Linked DNA regions of Homo sapiens. The protein of the gene in region 3 purifies or fractionates together with the protein of the main gene of each other region. This does not show direct contact. Each region holds a gene or a part of one and is shown on either strand. Other genes may lie near its edges.

Region 1 (4,511 bases), on a different chromosome or scaffold from region 3:
AAAAAAAAAAAAAAAAAAGGAAGAAAGAAAGAAAGAAAAAAGAAAAAGGCAAGGAGAGGCTAAAACGTTTGCTTAAAAAAAAAAACAAACATAAATCTTTAAACTTAAACAGTATAAAAATAGCCCTTAGTTTTCTCTCAGGTTAAATTATGACCCTAGCTTGGGGGTCTGGAGAGTTTTGTCTTAATTTTACTTTTTACTTTTGAAGCTCAGATTTATAAATTTAGAAAAAAAAGGAGCAAGTAAATGTGCTTTAAAATTTACCTGCCTCCTGCCACCTTCATTATTTATTCATTTTAGTGACTCAATAAACACATCAATTTTCTCACTATTAATTTTGACACATAACATTAGTAAAAGATATAAATCTCTACTGGGTCAAGTAATTGTTATTTATGAAGCAATCACTGAAAAAGTAAAATTTTCCACCGCAAAGGAAAACAACTACAGGTAGCATTGATGTTTGTTTATTCTTTCCAGTAAAAGAGTACATGACTTAAACGTCCCAAATCGGTTTAATGTTTTCAGTGAAGGGCATGTAATTAATCTGAAAAGCTAGTTAGGCTGAGTAGAGACTACCAAATCTACACTATAAATATAGTGGGAGCAAACATGCTAAATTACTCTATTTAATTGGATTGTAAATATGATTTATAAATCAACCAACATACGGAATCCCCAGGGAAGAGTAAACAAATTTTCCAAATGAAACCCCAGCAATGGGCATGTAATGGAAATCTCATTTTTGAAAATGACTTTACCTAAAGATTCCATAAATAAGACTTCAATCCATCAACTCCTTTCTCATGTGGATCTTCCATGAAAGGCATGAGAATTCTTTCCCCTGAAAGAACTGTGCAAGGGTGCTCTCTATAGCAAACTATCTTCTACCTAAATTTGAGAAGGAGATTTACTAATACAAAGCAAAATAGACTAAATTGCATACCCTAGAAAAAGTAAGTTACTGCTTTGTTTTAATACTTTTAGGAAAAGACCAACTTCATCACACTGACATTAACGGAAATAGTCTAGAAAAAAATATATAAGATGCAATGTAGTTCTTCTAGTTAAGGTTATCACAAGAAGAATGAAAGTACAAGTTTTAATTTCGTTTGTTCCAAATGTTCAAAATACAGATTTACCAATTTTTTAAAAGTAACTTTGGTGAATATGTTGAGGAACTGTATTGGCAGAGGGCTAGATTGTAAACTGTCTGAGGACAGGGACTTGCCTTAATCATCTTGTATCCCCACAAAACAGGATACATCATAAGCATTCCACAACCATATGTATATTTAAGTTAGTATAGGTTTGTGAAAGCAAAAGATGTGACACTGTAGCTTAAAAAACAAAGCAAAAATGTAGGCACCGTTTATCACAAAACAAGCATTACACTTTAAGCAAGCAAAATGAATAAAGCTGTTGAAAAAAGTAAACAGAAGTTCTAACCTAGCCATTTATTACTTGATTTATGGTTATTCCATTTATCCTCCCTCCTCCAAGTAAAGGAAAATACGTTAGTATCAAAACACTTGTGACCACCATAAAACTGGTATGGCAAATGTCTGGCAGTTAGAGGTTATAGACCATTATTCAAATTCTGGGAATTGTCTACTCAACATTATTTATCGTGAAGATAAATGCAAATAACAGTGCCAGGTCCTCTACCCACAATCTGCTTTCACTTATCAGTTCAACCTGGTCCTCTTATGATAAAATGAATTTACCTTGGCTTTATAATAAAGTAGATTTAGCCACAAATAGAGATGTGCTTCACCTAGAATTTCAACCTCGATATCATAAGCAAGAAAAAGTTTTGGATCTGAAAATAAACAAGATTTTCTCTTTTTTGGTGAACTCATTTTTCTGTCATTCTTCCATTTTTAATGCATTATGCAATGACCTAGTAAAACATACCTGACAAAATGAAATGATGGTTATAAATATGGTTTCAACATTCATCCAACAAGATCTTAATTATGCTTACTTATCATATTGTAGATGTAAATGTCTCTAAGAAATGGAAAGCCGCTATTTAAAAGCTTTTCTAAATTTTATAATTTTCCAAAATATTATTAAAATTGACATAGCCTTGAAAAATTTGCAATTACCTTTCCCTGCTATTTTATACAATACATTTTACTGATACATGATCATTAATTTTATTTTGAAATACTACTGGTTAAAATGTAACCAGGTCAAAGAATGTTTTTCATAACAGATAACATTATGAATTTCAAAGACACTCTGCTGGCATTTGCCTAAGATTTCATTGTCTATAAATCATAACTTATTTACAAAAATTAACTTTAATATGAAGACAAATTTAGTGCAATATCATTTATATCTTCCTGAGAATAGTACATCCACAAGGACAGCCAGTTTTTAAAATAATACACTAGAAAATCACATTCAGGATTCTAGAAGACTATCTTCACTTCAAATGCATGTGCAAGTAAATGCTTCATAAGAATTTCAGATTATATCTTTAAATTCAACTATTTTCACAACTTAATTCTGAACTTTTAAAAAGTTCAAGTATTTATAGACTATTCTCTATTTCTGACATCTCAGTCTGTAGCTAGTGTTATATTAAACTTGCCAAATTAATATCTGCAACCCCAAAATGAAGATACCCAAAGCTTATAAATCTGTCACTCCAATTACTTTAGAGTATCAGATATGCAATGTATCTTTCTTGAGACAGTATGCCCATTTGTAGAAAATTTTTCAAGAACTATACAATTATTTATATATAGTTTGAATAAAATTGAGGCATTAATTCATGAAATACTTCCTAAAAGGGCAAATGTATTCCAGTCCCTATGATTCTCTATATAAGGTTTTTTGGCCACTCAATTTTATTCCATTGGAGTTTTATGCTTTCAACAGAAGAGAACCGGCCATCAGGAAGCAGAGAACATTGTTGCCATTCAGAAGTAAATGGAATTAAGTACTTCTAGCCCCAATATTAACTGTGGGTATAAAAAAGCCAAAATAAATATTCTATCCTCAGAGACAATAAGGACTTCTGAATGGCACTGCAAAATATTAATTACAATGTAATATTAATATGTAAGACAAGTTAGAATATTCTACACTGAATTTTCAAAGACAAAAGATAGGTATATGCATAGCTGAAATGTGCATACAGTTTTAATTACTAGGAATCAGGACATCTGTCTTTACAGTTTAAGCTGAAAATAGAAACTCTAGATTATGGTAATCAATAGTATCTATACTCAGTTGCATAGTTTAGCCCTTTGGTAATTCTACAGATGTCCTCAAGAAAAATATGCTTTAAGCTCTATGATTCTGAATTCTCAATTTCCTTCTTTGTATAATAAAATTAAACTAGTATCATATAATTTTGCACTATTTAATAACAATCACAAATGCCCTGAAAGTGGGAAAAATTTTAAAGCTTTTTTTTGGCCAAAGACATTCAAGTTATTGTCCATAATATAAGCAGAGGGAAAAATACGTGTTACCAGAGTTTACATTTTGGTTGAAATATGCTGATTCCATTTTGAAAAATAACTTTTAAAAATAAATCTGCCCTTTGAATATTGGTAAGAGAAATGCACATATATGGGCAACACTTTACCTTTGTATGTTTATAAACAAGTATTAATGTGCAATTTAACCTTACATGAAATCAATGTCTAAAGTTCAAAACTGCTCAGAAAAATGGCACGGCTGAACTTGGCACATCTTCAACATTAAGCACTATTTTGATAATTATCATAGAGTAGCCACTAATTTATATTATTCTTAGAAACTTTTCAGGTTTTGAAATTTTACATCATTTGAATTATCTAACTATTAAATACATTGCAATGCAGAAGATTAGCATATTGCAATTAAGAACTTCGCAAATGTAAGTTTCATATAAATATTTTTATTCTGGAAAAAATAGCTTATTAAGTATTTAGAGCAATATTTATTTGGTTACTTATTTCTTTAAATTATATTCTTTTATAAATGTGATAATTTAGTGATTTAAAATTTAGTATATAAAATGTAATCTATTTTTAATAATCAGAATATCAATTATTTAAAACTTCAAATTTTTTATTTTAAATAATTTGTCAGTTTAGTTTTGAAGTGTATTATAAATTAAGCATTTCCAAACAAATTTCAATGTTAGATCTATAATTCAAGGAAGAGAAAATAAAAATTACTGGCCGGCACGGTGGCTCACGCCTGTAATCCCAGCACTTTGGGAGGCCGAGGTGGGTGGATCACGAGGTCAGGAGATCAAGACCAGCCAGGCCAACATGGTGAAACCCTCTCTCTACTAAAAACACAAAAATTAGGTGGGTGTGGCGGCGCGTGCCTGTAATCCCAGCTACTCAGGAGGCTGAGGCAGGAGAACCGCTTGAACCCGGGAGGCAGAGGCTGCAATAAGTAGAGATCGCGCCACTGCACTCCAACCTGGCGACAGAGCTAGACTCCGTCTCAAAATAAATAAATAAATAATAAGTATAAAGGGTTTTTTTTGGGATTAT
Region 2 (4,511 bases), about 34 Mb from region 3:
CAGTTGTGTACTTTTATAACACCTGTATTGTATTTATGTTTGTTTTTATGATGGCAAATATTGTTTTTTCATTTCCATATTTAAAATTCCCTTGAGCATTTCTCATAGGGGTGGTCTAGAGGTGACAAATTTTCTTAGCATTTGCTTGTCTGGGAAAGACTTTATTTCCCCTTCATTTATGAAACTTAGTTTTTCAGGGTACAAAATTTATTGTTGACAGTTTTTCTTTATGCAGTCTGAAAATAGGACCTCAGTCTCTTCTGTTTTTAAGGTTTCTGCTGAGAAGTCTGCTGCTAATACTATGAGATTTCACTTATAGGTGATTAGAGGCTTTTCTCTTGCTGATTTTAGGATTTTTTTCTTCACACTGATTTTGGATAATCTGATGACTATATATCTCTGTGAAGTTCATTTTGCAATGGATGTTTCTGGAGTTCTCTGAGCCTCTTATAACTGGATGTCTAAATTTCTAGTAAAATTAGGGAAGTTTTCCTGAATTTCCTAAATTATATTTTCCAATCCTTTTACTTCTTATTTTCCCTCAGAAATACCTATTACATATAGGTTTGGATGTTTTACATAATCCCCCACTTCATGAAGGCTTTGTCCTTTTTAAAATTTTTTTATTCTTGTCTGACTGGGTTAATTCAAAAATCTGCCTTCAAGCTCTGATATTCTTTCTTTCACTTGGTCTAGTCTATTGTTAAAACTTTTTACAGCATTTTGTAATTCCTTCAATGAATTTTTTATTTGCAGACATCCTATCAGGTTTTTTATTTTAAATATTTATCTCTTTAGTAAATTTCTTCTTGAATTGTTTTTCTGATTTCTTTGTATTTGTTTTCAACTTTCTCTTAGAGCTCATTAAGCTTCTTTAAAATTAATATTTTGACTTCTTTATCTGGTATTTCAAAGATTTCATTTTGGTTAAGATCCATTGTGGGAGAGCTAGTGTAATCTTTTGGGGATCCTGTAACCCTCTGTTTTTTCACCAGAGTTTCACAGAGTTTCTTCTTATCTGCATAAACTACCTCTTCTTTCATTTTTGAATTTATTTGCATTTGGACAGGATTTTTTCCCCTTCAGGATGTAACTATAATGTATGTTGTATATACATTATAGTTACATCCTGAAGGGAGAAAAATAGTCTTTTGGCTTTGGTTCTGGGTGCTTTCACTGGCAATGACTCTATATGAGTTCCTTAGTTGTAGGTAGCCTTTGTACTAGGCATGTGAGCAAGTTCATTGTCTCCTATGGTGCCAATATGGCAGAGGTCTCAGGAAGCCAGCACTGTGCACTTGTGCCAGCAGATTGTGTATTAGGTTGTGCAGTTCCATCTCCAGGCCAGCAGGTAGTACTTACTTACTGGTAAGAGCCAGCTGAAGCAGAAGCTGATAGGTATATGCTTGATCTTTGTTTACCAGGAGAGGTTCTCCATTGTTCCAGGCAATGGGCTGATCTATGGAATGCACAGTGGCCTGAGCTCCCTCAGCACCTAAGTGAGAGACAATGCTGTGTGGAGTTGGACTGCCAAGCCCACCCTTGGATACCCCAATGGCAGGCACAAACAAGCCCTAAGAGGGGTGGCAAGGGAAGCTCCCGGTGAAATGTGCTGAGGTCTCCCCAGTGAGGAGAGGGAGCTACCTCAGCTCCATGGCTTGGGCAGGCAGAAACACAGTCTTCTTCCCTGTCATATTCCTGGCCCAGCTCTCAGGACACTCAGATTGTACAGACACCACTGCCTATCTCCAAGCTCCAATTTAGCCAATGGCCATTAAAAAAAAAAAAAAAAGAAAAAAAAATGGTTGCCCCATGGCTCTCCACTAAAATGTCTGTGGTGCAGAACCTCCTCCCTCAGCCCTGTTCTATGCAACAGGAACACTGCCACTCCATGACAGAAGGGGAGACACCTTACCTTTCCTGCAAGCCCCAGCCTGGTAGGCACATAGCCAGCAGGGATGCAGTAATTCCCAATAGCCCTAGAATGGCTGTCCTCCATTCTACCCCTAGAATGGCTGTCCTTTATTCTAGCAAGATTACACATGCCGTAACCTTCAGGAAGAGCAGCCTGTATCCACAACTGTATCCACAACAGTGGGTGGGGTAGGGAGATGAGTAGTCCCCCTCTCCATTCCTGTGCCTCAGCACTGAGGCTGCCTGACTGCTGGGGTGGACCATACTCTTCCCCATAGGGCTGAACACAACACCCACATCTCCTCTAGAAGCAGTGCAGTTACTCTCAGTCCATAAGCGGGAAGCTCTTGAGCACCAGAAAGCACACACTCTGGGTTCCTTTGTGCAAAGGGGTGCTCCCTTGGTGCACTGCACTCTTTTCCTTTAGGAGCAGCACTCCCTGAGGGCTGGAACAAGAGGAATACTGCAGCTCTCTTGGAGTCACCCAGCCCTATGTGGCTGCTGCAATTTTAGCAGATGCTGGGGAATGCCTGTGAGGAATTGGCAATGTGGAAACACAAGGGCTGAGATTTCCTGGGCAGAACTCAGTCATTCAATGGATGCAGCCCAAGAATCGTGCCTGCCACTGCAGTTTGGGTAGAGAAGGAGGACAAGCAACCCTGTACATGCTGGTATACTAGTGCAATGCCCTCAAGAAGTCACCAAATCACTGCCACACCAGTGTTTGGGTTCATGAGGACAGAGGAGCTCTCTGACATTTCAGATACCAAGGATCTGCCACCAGGGCAAGGAGAAACAAAAACACTCCCGCTAATCCTTTTCATGAAATACCAAGCCCCTCTGGGTTTCATCTCTGACAACCTCTTGCTTCCTTCTTTTCCTGTGCCCTAGTTTCTTCTGGTGAGTTCTCCTCTAGGCTCCAGCACTTTCCTCTTGAAATTCTGTGTAAAATCATTCAACTGTAACTTTGAGTCTTCTTTCTTTTTCTTTCTTATTTTATTTTAATTTAATTTATTTCATTTTATTTATTTTATTTTATTTTTTTGAGATGGAGTCTCACTTTATCACCCAGGCTGGAATGCAGTGGCACCGTCTCAGCTCACTACAACCTCTGCCTCCTGTGTTCCAGCGATTCGCCTGCCTCAGCCTCCCAAGTAGCTGTGACTACAGGTGCCTGCCACCATGCCTGGCTAATTTTTGTATTTTCAGTAGAGGCAGGGTTTCACTATATTGGCCAGGCTGGTCTCGAACTCCTGACCTCAAATAATCCACTCACCTCGGCCTCCTAAAGTGCTGGGATTACAGGCGTGAGCCACCCCAAGTCTTCTTTCTAAGGAGAACTGGCATCCATTCTCTCCAGTTAGCCATACTAGGGGAAAAAAAAAAAAAAAAACCTAACTTGCTACTCATTTAGGGCTTTTTATTTCATAAGTATCTTAGATGTGTTAGATCTGTGAATATATGTTAATCTTCAATTATTGAGGTCTATATTAATTAAAGTTTTACCTCAGCCAACTGGTTTCTTATTTGTAACCAATTAACCACCATGAGTGTATTTACATAGAAAAGTGTTTGGGGAGAGAAAAGAAAGGTTCAATTCAACACAACTAGCTGGTAAGCATAACGATTGGGTGTTTAGCTAAATTCAACGTTTCATTTTAAAAGATGAGTAGTTTTGAAAAAATAGGAGATGAAAATTACCAATAGTAGTTCCATCCAAACACAACCTATGCCAGCACTACTTTTTCTAGGTATGTGTATTTAATTTTTACATAATTGCAGTTCTACCACACACAAATTTTATATCAGCCTTTTTGTAGTTTTATTATGTCATATAAATGTTCTACATTGCCATCTAATTTTGACAAGCATCATTTTATTGGCTGCATAATGTTTCTTTCAGTAAATGTGTCAAGATTTGCTTTATCTAAATATTCAACAAAAGAAAACTAATTGTTACTAATTATTTTGTTATGGCAAATAACATTGCAATAAAGAGCTTTGCACATAAGCCTCAGTATTTAAGACTCAGCATAAATTCACTGAAGTAAAATTATTGAGTCAAAGCAATGTAAACAGCTTTATGGTATTTGATTCATATTGCCAAATTGTTTCTCAAAAGTTTTCCTATGCCCTTAGATGACTTTTTACCAATTTGATTCTACAGAATGCTTACCATATACCCAATACTGTGCTAGATACAGAATATACAATGATTTAAAGACATGCCAATATTTCAAAAGGCTTCTTTTAAGTTTTGCAGATTCTGAATGTAGTTTTTCACAGATACATAAAGGTGAGATAGCTTTGATTTCAAAATATTCATTAAATAAAATTGTTTTAGCACAAAAAAAGACAGTTGAAGAGCTCAAAGAACAATTACTTCAAAAAGACACCAAGGCTCCTTTCTTTGAGGTTCATAATGGAAATACCAGTTGCATCTGATATGTGCATCACTGCTTTTATGTTCTTACTTTTCCATTTCACCTAAATAATTTCATTTAATTGCTTGTGACATTCAATGTATAAGAGAAAGAGAAAAAAGAAAATTTACCCTTGCCAAGTCCTAAAATGGAAATAATGTTTATCTTAGTATG
Region 3 (5,522 bases):
GAAGCTAGAAAGCAGTTAATGATCTACAGACTACCTCAGGTTCTCCGGCTGCACCTTAAAAGATTCAGGTGAGCTTGCTGTGGGAGTCCCAGCTGGGTGAGAGCTGTGGGAATAGCTGCTCCAAAGGCTTTGGTGAGGGCAAATGTCTTCTATGGTGTTGGGAGGGGAAGCCTGTTCACTTGAGACCTCGTGTTTTCCATGGAGATTAAACTGTTCACATCCACTAAGGCAAATTGATGTGGGAGCCCAGCAGGACTGGGCTTTTGCTCTCATGCTCCTGTGTAATTAATTATCCAGCCTGCACTGGGTGTCTGTGCTTAAAGATTTTCTAGCCTGGCTTGGACTTATGTAGATTCATCTTCAGGATGAAGTATAAAATAATCTGCAAAAGAAGCACAGGCAGGAAACTACAAAAAGACTGTTGCTTGAATTGCTTGTTTAGGGATCTCTAGGTTTAGAGTACTTCATGGAACATTAACAGCAAATAAATGGGCCAGGCGCAGTGGCTCATGACTGTAACCCTAGAACTTTGGGAGGCCAAGGTAGGCAGATTGCTTGAGCTCAGGAGTTTGAGACCAGCCTCGGCAACATGGTTAAAACCCTGTCTCTACAAAAAATGCAAAAATTAGCCAGGCATGGTGGTGTGCACCTATAGTCCCACCTACTCGGGAGGCTGAGGTGGGGGGATCACCTGAGCTCGGGAAGGTTGAAGCTGCAGTGAGCCTTTATCAATCACACCACTGCACTGCAGCCTGGGCAACAGAGTGAGACCCTGTCTGAAAATAAATAAATAAATAAATAAATAAATAAATAAATAAGTGTGAACATTGATTACCACCATTTTATTGATGGGAAAACCAAAACCAGAAGGTTAAATTTTCTCAGTTTCCTGTTTTATTAATACCTACCTCTACCTACGATTATATATGCCAGTTTTTACTAGTAACAAGCTTATATCCATGTTCTAGGTGGTCTGGCCGTAATCATCGAGAGAAGATTGGGGTCCATGTCGTCTTTGACCAGGTATTAACCATGGAACCTTACTGCTGCAGGGACATGCTCTCCTCTCTTGACAAAGAGACCTTTGCCTATGATCTCTCCGCAGTGGTCATGCATCACGGGAAAGGGTTTGGCTCAGGACACTACACAGCCTATTGCTACAACACAGAGGGAGGTGCGTGCGCTTTACTCTGTGGGGTGGGGGACACGGAAAGGGGTTGATTTGTCCACATTTTATTGTTTTCCTTTTATTTCCATCCCATGGATTACCTAGAGGGAAATTACATACATCAAAAATCCAGTGGAAAGAATTGTGAAAATTGGGTTGGGCGCCGTGGCTCACACCTGTAATCCTAGCGCTTTGGGAGGCCGCGGTGGGTGGATCACCTGAGGTCAGGAGTTCGAGACCAGCCTGGCCAACATGGTTAAACCCCGTCTCTACTAAAATAGTACAAAAATTAGCCGGGCGTGGTGGTGGGCACTGGTAATCCCAGGTACTCAAGAGGCTGAGGCAGGAGAATCGCTTGAACCTGGGAGGCAGAGGTTGCAGTGAGCCAAGATTATGCCACTGCACTTCAGCCTGGGTGACAGAGCAAGACTCTTATCTCAAAAAAAATAAAAAGAATTATGAAAGTTGGATTCAAATTTTGGGTATATTACTAAGTAACAACATATGGTTGTTCTAAGAATTAAAAGGAACTGACATGTAAAAGTGCTTAGAACAGGACCTAGGCCCTGTGCAATGGCTCACACCTGTAATTCCAACACTTTGGGAGGCAGAGGCGGGAGGATTGCTTGAGGCCGAGGGTTCAAGACTAGCCTGGGCAACATAGCGAGACTGCATCTCTACAAAAAATTTAAAAATTATCCAGGTGTAATGGTGTGCACCTGTGATCCTAGCTACTTGGGAGGCTGAGGTGGGAGAATTGCTCAAGCCCAGGAGTTTGAAGTTGCAATGAGCTATGATTTCACCACTGCATTCTAGCCTGGGCAACAGAGTGAGATCCTGACTCAAATAAATAAATAAGAAGAGCAGTTGCCTACCACATAGTACTTATTCAGTCAGTGTTAGAGGATATTGTAGTATTATCAAAAGTATTGGTTATTGATAATATTACTGTTTTGTGGTAATGCTACTTCTGCACACCCCAGTTTCCTTCTTGGTTATGCAGAAACAGTAGAACCTGTGTAACCTCAAGGAGATATTGTATGAATCTCACTAGCCGCAGCTTATAATAAAGCCGAGAACATTTACTGAGCACTTACTATGTTCTTACTACTTCCCCTGCCATGGGAAGTGTGGGGATGCAAGGGCCCCTCCAAAGGAGCTTTAGGTCCTCATCCTCCAGAGTGGAGTCTTCCAGCTACTGCACTGACTGATGGGCTGCAGATGTGTTTTCAGCTGTTCACTCTTCTTGAACTGCACAGCCCTTGGGGCAGCCAGAGCTTGTGAATAAATACTTTTTTGTTCCTTCTAAATTTTCCTTCATCACTCCCCTCTATTTCCATTTCTCCTCTCCTCCTCCTCTTCCTCCTCATCTCCCCATTGCTTAGCCTGCAGTATCGCAGCTCTTTCTAGAAGGCCCTAGTGGACAATGAAAAAGCCTGAAGAAAACAAAGATAAAAATTGCAGTCAGTCGGCTGGGTGCGGTGGCTCACGCCTGTAATCCCAGCACTCTGGGAGGCCGAGGCGGGCGGATCACGAGGTCAGGAGGTCGAGACCATCCTGGCTAACATGGTGAAGCCCCGTCTCTACTAAAAATACAAAGAATTAGCCGGGCGTGGTGGTGGGCACCTGTAGTCCCAGCTACTCGAGAGGCTGAGGCAGGAGAATGGCAGGAGAATGGCGTGAACCTGGGAGGTGGAGCTTGCAGTGAGCCGAGAACCCACCACTGCACTCCAGCCTGGGTGACAGAGCGAGACTCTGTCTCAAAAAAAAAAAAAAAAAAAAAATTGCAGTCAGTCGATAAGCAGTACCGTGGGGCTTGGTGGGGTTAAAGCCAGTGGATACACAAAAGTCTGTCAGTTTCATTTACCTGTCCCTTCCCCACCAATAATCGAGGGTTGGCTCTATTCAGAACTTCTCTGTCCCTTTCTTCATCTCCTGATTTTGCCTGCTGACTAAAATATGAATTGGGTAGTCATTTTCTCTCTTTTTCTCCTTTGGTTTCCTAGGTTTTTGGGTCCACTGCAATGACTCAAAGCTGAATGTATGCAGTGTCGAGGAAGTGTGCAAAACCCAGGCCTACATCCTTTTTTACACTCAAAGAACAGTGCAGGGCAATGCAAGAATCTCAGAAACCCATCTCCAAGCTCAGGTGCAGTCCAGCAACAATGATGAAGGCAGACCACAGACATTTTCCTGAATGGGAGGCATGTATCAAAGACTGGCTTTTGTGTATTGGTGTCCATACATCTTTCCTCTTATAGGAAATAAGGCTACTGCAGGAACAGATTACTAGGTTTGCCTTGCTGGGTCTAGAGTAGAAGGTGCCAGGTGATTCGTGTCCTGTCGTAAATTTTATAGTCTCTTTCTTTTGAATGAGTTTGGGAGTTCCCTCCTTTCCTAAAAACAAAAGAAGTAACTTCTATGAAGATCCTTTCATCAGTTGCTTCTGAATATAGAGGGATCTGGGTGGAGGAAAGCGGGGCGGGGGGGTAAATCAATCATATCCACACAGGAGAGCAGCCATGTTTTCTCTCCATGATGTGATTCCCCTGCTAATCAGGACCTCCTTGCAGCACCAGAAGAACCCTCCGGATGTGAGCAGTCCTGGACAGAGCACGTGAGGAGGGGCCCTGGGCTAGCAGTTTGCTGGATGGGATTGGCTCCAAGATGGGAGATGAAGTCTAAAGGGTTTATTCCCACAAAGGAAGTAACCTTCAAGGGTTTAAAACAAACTTCCTTTTTTGGGGATAGCAGCTGAAGAGTGGAGTGAGATGCATGGAACAAATTTCCCCATGCAAAGTGGGATGGTTTTCATATGTCATACCCTCCCTACTTGCTGCTGTCATATAATCATTCCATACTTCTGAGACTGGCATGAATACCCCTTCATTCTAAAGAAGGGGCAGGTCATATAAAGAAGCAATAGACTAGCACATGTTCCATGCTGAGCCAAAGGACACTCCTGGCTATCTCAGTTCTGTAGCAGATCCCTGGTTCAGGTCTAGGGCAAGCACATGGTTTGGTTTAAATTGATTCTTAGGTTTTCTCAGAACTCAATTGAGGGTGGGCAGAGATAGCTGATGCTCCAGGGCTTATTGAAGGCCTGTCACCCGTTCTCACTTCAGTGCGGCATGCAGCTTCTTAGCCTGCAGCTTCTTTCTTGCTCCTGGAGAGCTAGAACATTCATGTTCACAGGGTTTGGGAGCTTTTGGTTCTCTAGGGTATGTTAACTGCTTAGGAGTCCACCTCGTACATATCTGAAGAGTTGATTACCAATGGCCTTGACCTGTTTCCTCCCAAATCTGATAATCCCTACTGTTGCTTTACCCCCCATACTCAGTCCATCAGAGAAAAAAACAAGAGTGCCCCGTCCTTTCCCCCAGTGCTAGTAAAATACATCTTCCTTTTTAAATTGGGTCAGTTTCTAAACAGAATGAAATTGCCCAGATAAAAACCCTTGTCCCCATCAGGCACCACTTCATTCTTAGTTCTTCACTTAGATTTGCTGGTGAAAGTGAATGCAAACCCTAACTTTTGTTGCTGTGGTCACTGCAGTGAGCCTCACTCAACCTGTCACTATGAATGCTCATCTTTTGACTGAGTATATCATATTAATGTTTGAATTCAGGTAGAAGTACAGTTGTCACTTGAAGGGAGTAGATGTGGAAGGGCGTTCGGGGAGGAGTGGGAAGTGGGGAAAGCCAGGCTAAAGAATGAGGGTTATAGCTTTAGCAATGTTGATGAGCCACATTTCCCACACAGATCTGTAGCATTTGCTGTTGACCTCTTTTGAGATGAACTCTCCCATAGGCCCTGCCAGGCAGCACTGAGACATGGAGGAAATTCAGACAAAAAATGGCTCACCCTGATAGGGAAGGAGTGACTATATTTTAAATTAAACTTGCTTTTTCCAACACTGTGAGGTTTCTGTAATATTTAGCTTTTATTTGGAAGCGATAGCGTATGGCATTTTTTATGCTGTTTGGTTTATATTGTCTACTGCAGGCTTCTTTGTATAAGCTTTGCCTGGGCTCACCCTCTCCTGGACACTGTTTTAAAGTGTCACCGCTGTCCATGCTGCCAGAGGCTCTGATGTGAAGCTGTACTCTCAAGATCCACGTTTTTAAGTCGGCATGATTAGTAATGACTTTTTGTGGCAATAGAAAAGCCCATTAACTCAAAAAAACCAAGGAGAGTAAAAAGGAAAGGAAACTATGAATCGTGCCTCATCTTTCATTGAATCCTATATTTATTATTCTAGAAAAAAAGAACTTACAAGATAGAGAAGAACTAATAGAGCATCTACTTTACCCCTCAGGCTGTCCAGTGGGGATAATTATTAATAAACATTTAA
Region 4 (4,511 bases), about 100 Mb from region 3:
CTATAAATGCTTATACCAAGAATTTCTCATTTACATACTCAAGAATTTTTAAAAAGCTTCCACATCTTTATACTCAAAATGCTTTAATTGGTGAAATTCTGATGTTAGAAAAGAATAACATTGTACTGTTCTAGTTCTTAGTCTCAATTTTTTTCTTTAAGCTTTGATTTAACATTACTATTAAATCATTCAGTTAGTTTTGAGGATAAACCACAAAGAAACAAAGATTAGGAAACTATCATGAAGAAGCAAAACTTTACATTTTCCTCTCCCTCTTTAGTCCAAGTGGCCTTACCAAGACTCGAAGAGATGACGACCTCACATGCCTGTTGATCTCATCCACCCACTGGTGACAGATGGAACTTGGAGAGATGATCAGAGTTGCTCTTGTTGACACTGGTTCCATTGCAACAAGGCAGTGGGGGCAGTAAAAAGGCTTGATCTTCAGATTTTTCTCATCATAATTCACACACTTTGCATGTTGCCACAGGTGACACTTCAGGCATTGAACACGAGGCTTACGATCTATCTGATCAAGTTCACCACATATACACTCAAAGCGGTAATCAGAGGTGTTAAAGGGACTCATGGTATTAGAAGGTGGTACATCACTATCAGCATGATTTAGAGATTCAGCACAGTCCTCTGTTTCATGTTCTTGGTTGAATTCAGAGATACATGTACTTTTAGACATAGCAACATCAGTTATTCCAGAGTCGCTAGTAGCTGGACAGTGACCTTGTGAATCGGGATTGATAAATGGTTGACTTTTTCCTTTTTTTGTGGATGGAACAAGCTTTTTCCTCAATTTACTGCGATTTCTCCTGGACTTATAATAATAATAGTAAGGATCATCATCATCATCAGAGGTGTCTGATGGCAAGTATTCAGAATCTGTGTCCTTGTTCCCTGATTTTCTAGTTTCTTTCTGAATTTTCCTTGGACTCCCTACTGCCTATGAAAAAAATATTTAATTAATTGATTGCAACTAGTTGCATTTCTGAAATTAAACTCCTGACTTTATGTAAGTACTTCATATAATTATGTAGCAGCCAGTCTTTGCTACCCTTTTCCCTGAGGAGAATCACTCCTGATAAGTGGCTTCCAATCTGCCCTCTGTAAGGACCCTCACTTCATCTCAAAACAAAAGGAAGGCTCTACAAGTGTCAGATTTGGAGAGATGAAAAATTAGAAAGATAAAGGAAGCTACTGATATTTTGTTATTTACCTACTATGATTTAGTCTACCTAAATCAATACAAGACTAGTACTTTTCGAGTACATAAATATACAAATCAGGGCAACTACAAAAACACCAAGTACTAAAATATAGCATCCAAAGAAAGTAAAAGATAATCCACTGGTTACTGCAATTAGCAAATTGATTCCTTCTTTCCTTCCCTTTTCTACATATGTCCTCTCTTACAATTACTTATTAAATGCCAATTCTGTGCCAGTAGTTGTGTTAGATGCTAGGGACACAAATATGAACAATATTTGGCCCCCGGTTTCAAAGGGGTCTACTGGAAAAGTGAGAACAGTAAAAAGTAAAATGATGCTATGGGAATACCTAAGAGGGTTGTACAACATAGTGGGAGTATGATAGGCAGGTAGTTAATAGGGACAGCTTCCTCCAAGGCATATCAGGGCTGAGGTCGAACAGGGGAGTTAAGACACAACATGTAATCAATGGCATTAACTGAGGGAAATCTTCTAGTTTTGGTGGTAGCAGGATTACCAAAAGCACAGTTCACTGCTGTCTTCAGTGCTACCCAAGGATAATATAGACTCCCTACTCCAGAAAATAAATTTTTTGTCTTTTTCTTGGTGGCCGAGCTGGTAGCTCCACATTTTGACTTGTTGTCATTAATCTTTATTTATGATTGCAAATATTATAACTATTTTCCTAAAAGCAAATTGAAATTACTGGCCCAACAGAAGCAGTTTTCTAACAAAATGCAGAAATTGTATAAGATAATAATATAAAGAAAATGAGAATTTAGAAGTTCCAGACCTGCCTGGGCAACATAGTGAGAACCCCGTCTCTACAAAAAAACAAGAAAAATTAACCAGGCATGGTGACATGAGCCTGTACTCACAACTACTTGGGAAGCTAAGGCAAGATGACAGCTTGGCACAGGAGTTCAAGGCTGCAGCTAGCTATGACCACTGCATTCTAGCCAGGGCAATAGATGCCCTGTGTCTTAAAAAAATAATAAAAATAAATAATACAGAAGATGCTTTATACTCTATAATACGCTTAGCCAACTAGTTTTTTAATTCACTCAATAAATATCTGAGTATTTGTTACGTGCCAAGCATTATTCTCTAGGTTTAATGATAGCCAAAGTAAAGTTACTCTCACGGAGTTTATATCCACAAAGTAGAAAGTAGAAGTTACAGATATAAGTACTTTTCCTATTTTTTTATCTTCAGATCGTAAGAGTTTCAGTTTCAAGGTGGGATCTGTCAATGTACTCAGTAAGGTATCACATACGTGTACTTAATATAGAGCTGAACTTAAGCTCTGTTACCTGCTTTTTTGTTTTATCACATATATCCTCTTCCTTGTAATTCTTTCCCAATGTAAAAGTCCCAGAAAAACCATGGCCTTTGATCTGTTTCACGAGACCTTCAAAAATTAAACATTTCAGCATCCGTTTCAAAAGACTCCTGTTCCGTTGAACATCGTATCTATATATAGAACTGACATACTTATAGATGGAAAGGATGGACACTCCTTTTTTTCCATTCATTTCTTTCACAGCTGTCAGTATCATCACACGTGTAGCTAAATGTAAAAGGATATGCTAAATCAGTCAAAATAATTAAAATGAAAAGAAAGTAAAACTTGGTTAATCTTAATCTGCATGAGGACTGAGTTAAGAAAGAAATAAATCAAAGATTTATTACAGCAGAGTGCCATTTTGAAAAAATATGTAATAAAAATGTATCTCAGCATATTAAGAAACAAATTACTGTAATAAAAATAATCAAAGGAAGAATTACTCATATTGAATTGTTAATACTATAAAACAATCATTCAAAATTATAAAAGAAAACTCTCACAATTATTTAAGTATACGCTACCATTAGTATGCGAAACATTCATTTCCTAAAAGATAAATAAAGCCTGGTTTAAACTGTAAGCTAAAGAGATTTAAATATAACAGACTGAGCAAGAACTACCTGGGCCAAGTCAAACAAAATAATACATCTTTACTTTTGTTAAGATATTATGACTTGTAATTGAATTCATTTATCAAAAGCATATATAACTGTAAAAACAATTGTTTATAACAATTACAAGATATCTCTAAGGATTGCAAGAACTCTAGCAAAGATCACTATAAGAAGGTATTTCCTTTAAGAGATGTCTTACTTACGAGGGCATTGAACTTTTTCTTTTGGTTCAAATTCGATATTCTGGATTTCTGTCTTTTTCAGTTTTCCTCCAAAATAATGTGACGGAATAAAATAATTCACCACTTTTCCCTGATACAAACAACAGTCAGTAGTTACACAGTGTTTTGCTTTCAGTATTCTGAATTGCTTATTGAAATTAACTTTCCTTCTTTATGGAAATGCAAAACAGTTCTAAAAAAATTGCAAGAGAAAGGGCCAAATAGCTGTAGATACATACACAGTTTTATTTCTGAGTTTACAGCTAGCTATCACTTAAAAAATTGTGCATATTATCTTAAATTACCTAAATGTTATGTGTGGAACCTCTGAAATTAACTTTTAAAGGTATATTTAAATATAAAATTAACCCATTGAATTTATAATAATATGAAAATAACTTGGAATTAAAATAGTAATGAGTAGGAAATCTCAGAAAGAAGTTACTGATAGTTAAGTCAATATATTCCAAGTCATTTGTCTACAAAAAAAACATTTTTTTTTTAAATTTTCTACTCAAATCTGAAAGGCTAATTCTGCAAACTTGACCCTACTGAAAGATAACATAATGCTAAAGCTGTGAGACTGGTGGGTCCTAGAGGTAATTAATTATAATTATACCTTTAACTACTGACTTCATTTCAGCAAGATTTAATGTAAGGGCTGATTTCAGATTTCATTACTAGAAAATATGAGCTATATACTATATTTGCCTTAGTGGACTTTGTTTCTGTAACTCTAAAATTTATATTTTTAAACACAATTATGTATTTTGGGACAAGGACTTGAAGTTTGTTTCATTTAGCAATCTATTTACTAAGCTACTTGTTCTTTAACAAAGTTCTAATTATTTGGTTCTAAGATTTATATATATGAGATTTGTATAACATTTTTAAATAGCTCTTAAAAATATTTAGTAGTAATATGGAGACTTTATTAGTGACAAAACATTTGAGGAGTCAACAGTACTTTTGTAAAGGAGTTTCTCTGCCAACTAGAAGAAAGTTCAGTAAGTGATCACAAATTCTCTTCCTAGTTGGCCAACATTACTTCAAAAATAAACCTTCTGGGTCACAAACACCCCATTCTCTCTGCCCACTTGAAGTTAAC

Evidence for each region. The genes of interacting proteins can lie anywhere in the genome.
Region 1: the proteins of USP49 (region 3) and PAX9 purify together in Homo sapiens (affinity purification with western blotting; one study listed by BioGRID). This does not show direct contact.
Region 2: the proteins of USP49 (region 3) and IMPG1 purify together in Homo sapiens (affinity purification with mass spectrometry; one large-scale study listed by BioGRID and IntAct). This does not show direct contact.
Region 4: the proteins of USP49 (region 3) and SHPRH purify together in Homo sapiens (affinity purification with mass spectrometry; one large-scale study listed by BioGRID and IntAct). This does not show direct contact.

Annotation. Positions count from the first base shown.
Region 1 is NC_000014.9:36,668,360-36,672,870, reverse strand, and holds part of PAX9 (paired box protein Pax-9), read right to left. Parts: intron 1-4,511. UniProt on the Homo sapiens protein: Transcription factor required for normal development of thymus, parathyroid glands, ultimobranchial bodies, teeth, skeletal elements of skull and larynx as well as distal limbs.
Region 2 is NC_000006.12:76,061,652-76,066,162, reverse strand, and holds part of IMPG1 (interphotoreceptor matrix proteoglycan 1 isoform 1 precursor), read left to right. Parts: intron 1-4,511. UniProt on the Homo sapiens protein: Chondroitin sulfate-, heparin- and hyaluronan-binding protein. May serve to form a basic macromolecular scaffold comprising the insoluble interphotoreceptor matrix.
Region 3 is NC_000006.12:41,794,376-41,799,897, reverse strand, and holds part of USP49 (ubiquitin carboxyl-terminal hydrolase 49), read left to right. Parts: coding exon 1-68; intron 69-968; coding exon 969-1,174; coding exon of another isoform or gene 1,175-1,221; exon of another isoform or gene 1,222-2,253; intron 2,254-3,174; coding exon 3,175-3,365; 3' UTR 3,366-5,522. UniProt on the Homo sapiens protein: Deubiquitinase that plays a role in several cellular processes including transcriptional regulation, cell cycle progression or innate immunity.
Region 4 is NC_000006.12:145,942,848-145,947,358, forward strand, and holds part of SHPRH (E3 ubiquitin-protein ligase SHPRH), read right to left. Parts: intron 3,495-4,511; coding exon 3,386-3,494; intron 2,791-3,385; coding exon 2,534-2,790; intron 956-2,533; coding exon 296-955; intron 1-295. UniProt on the Homo sapiens protein: E3 ubiquitin-protein ligase involved in DNA repair.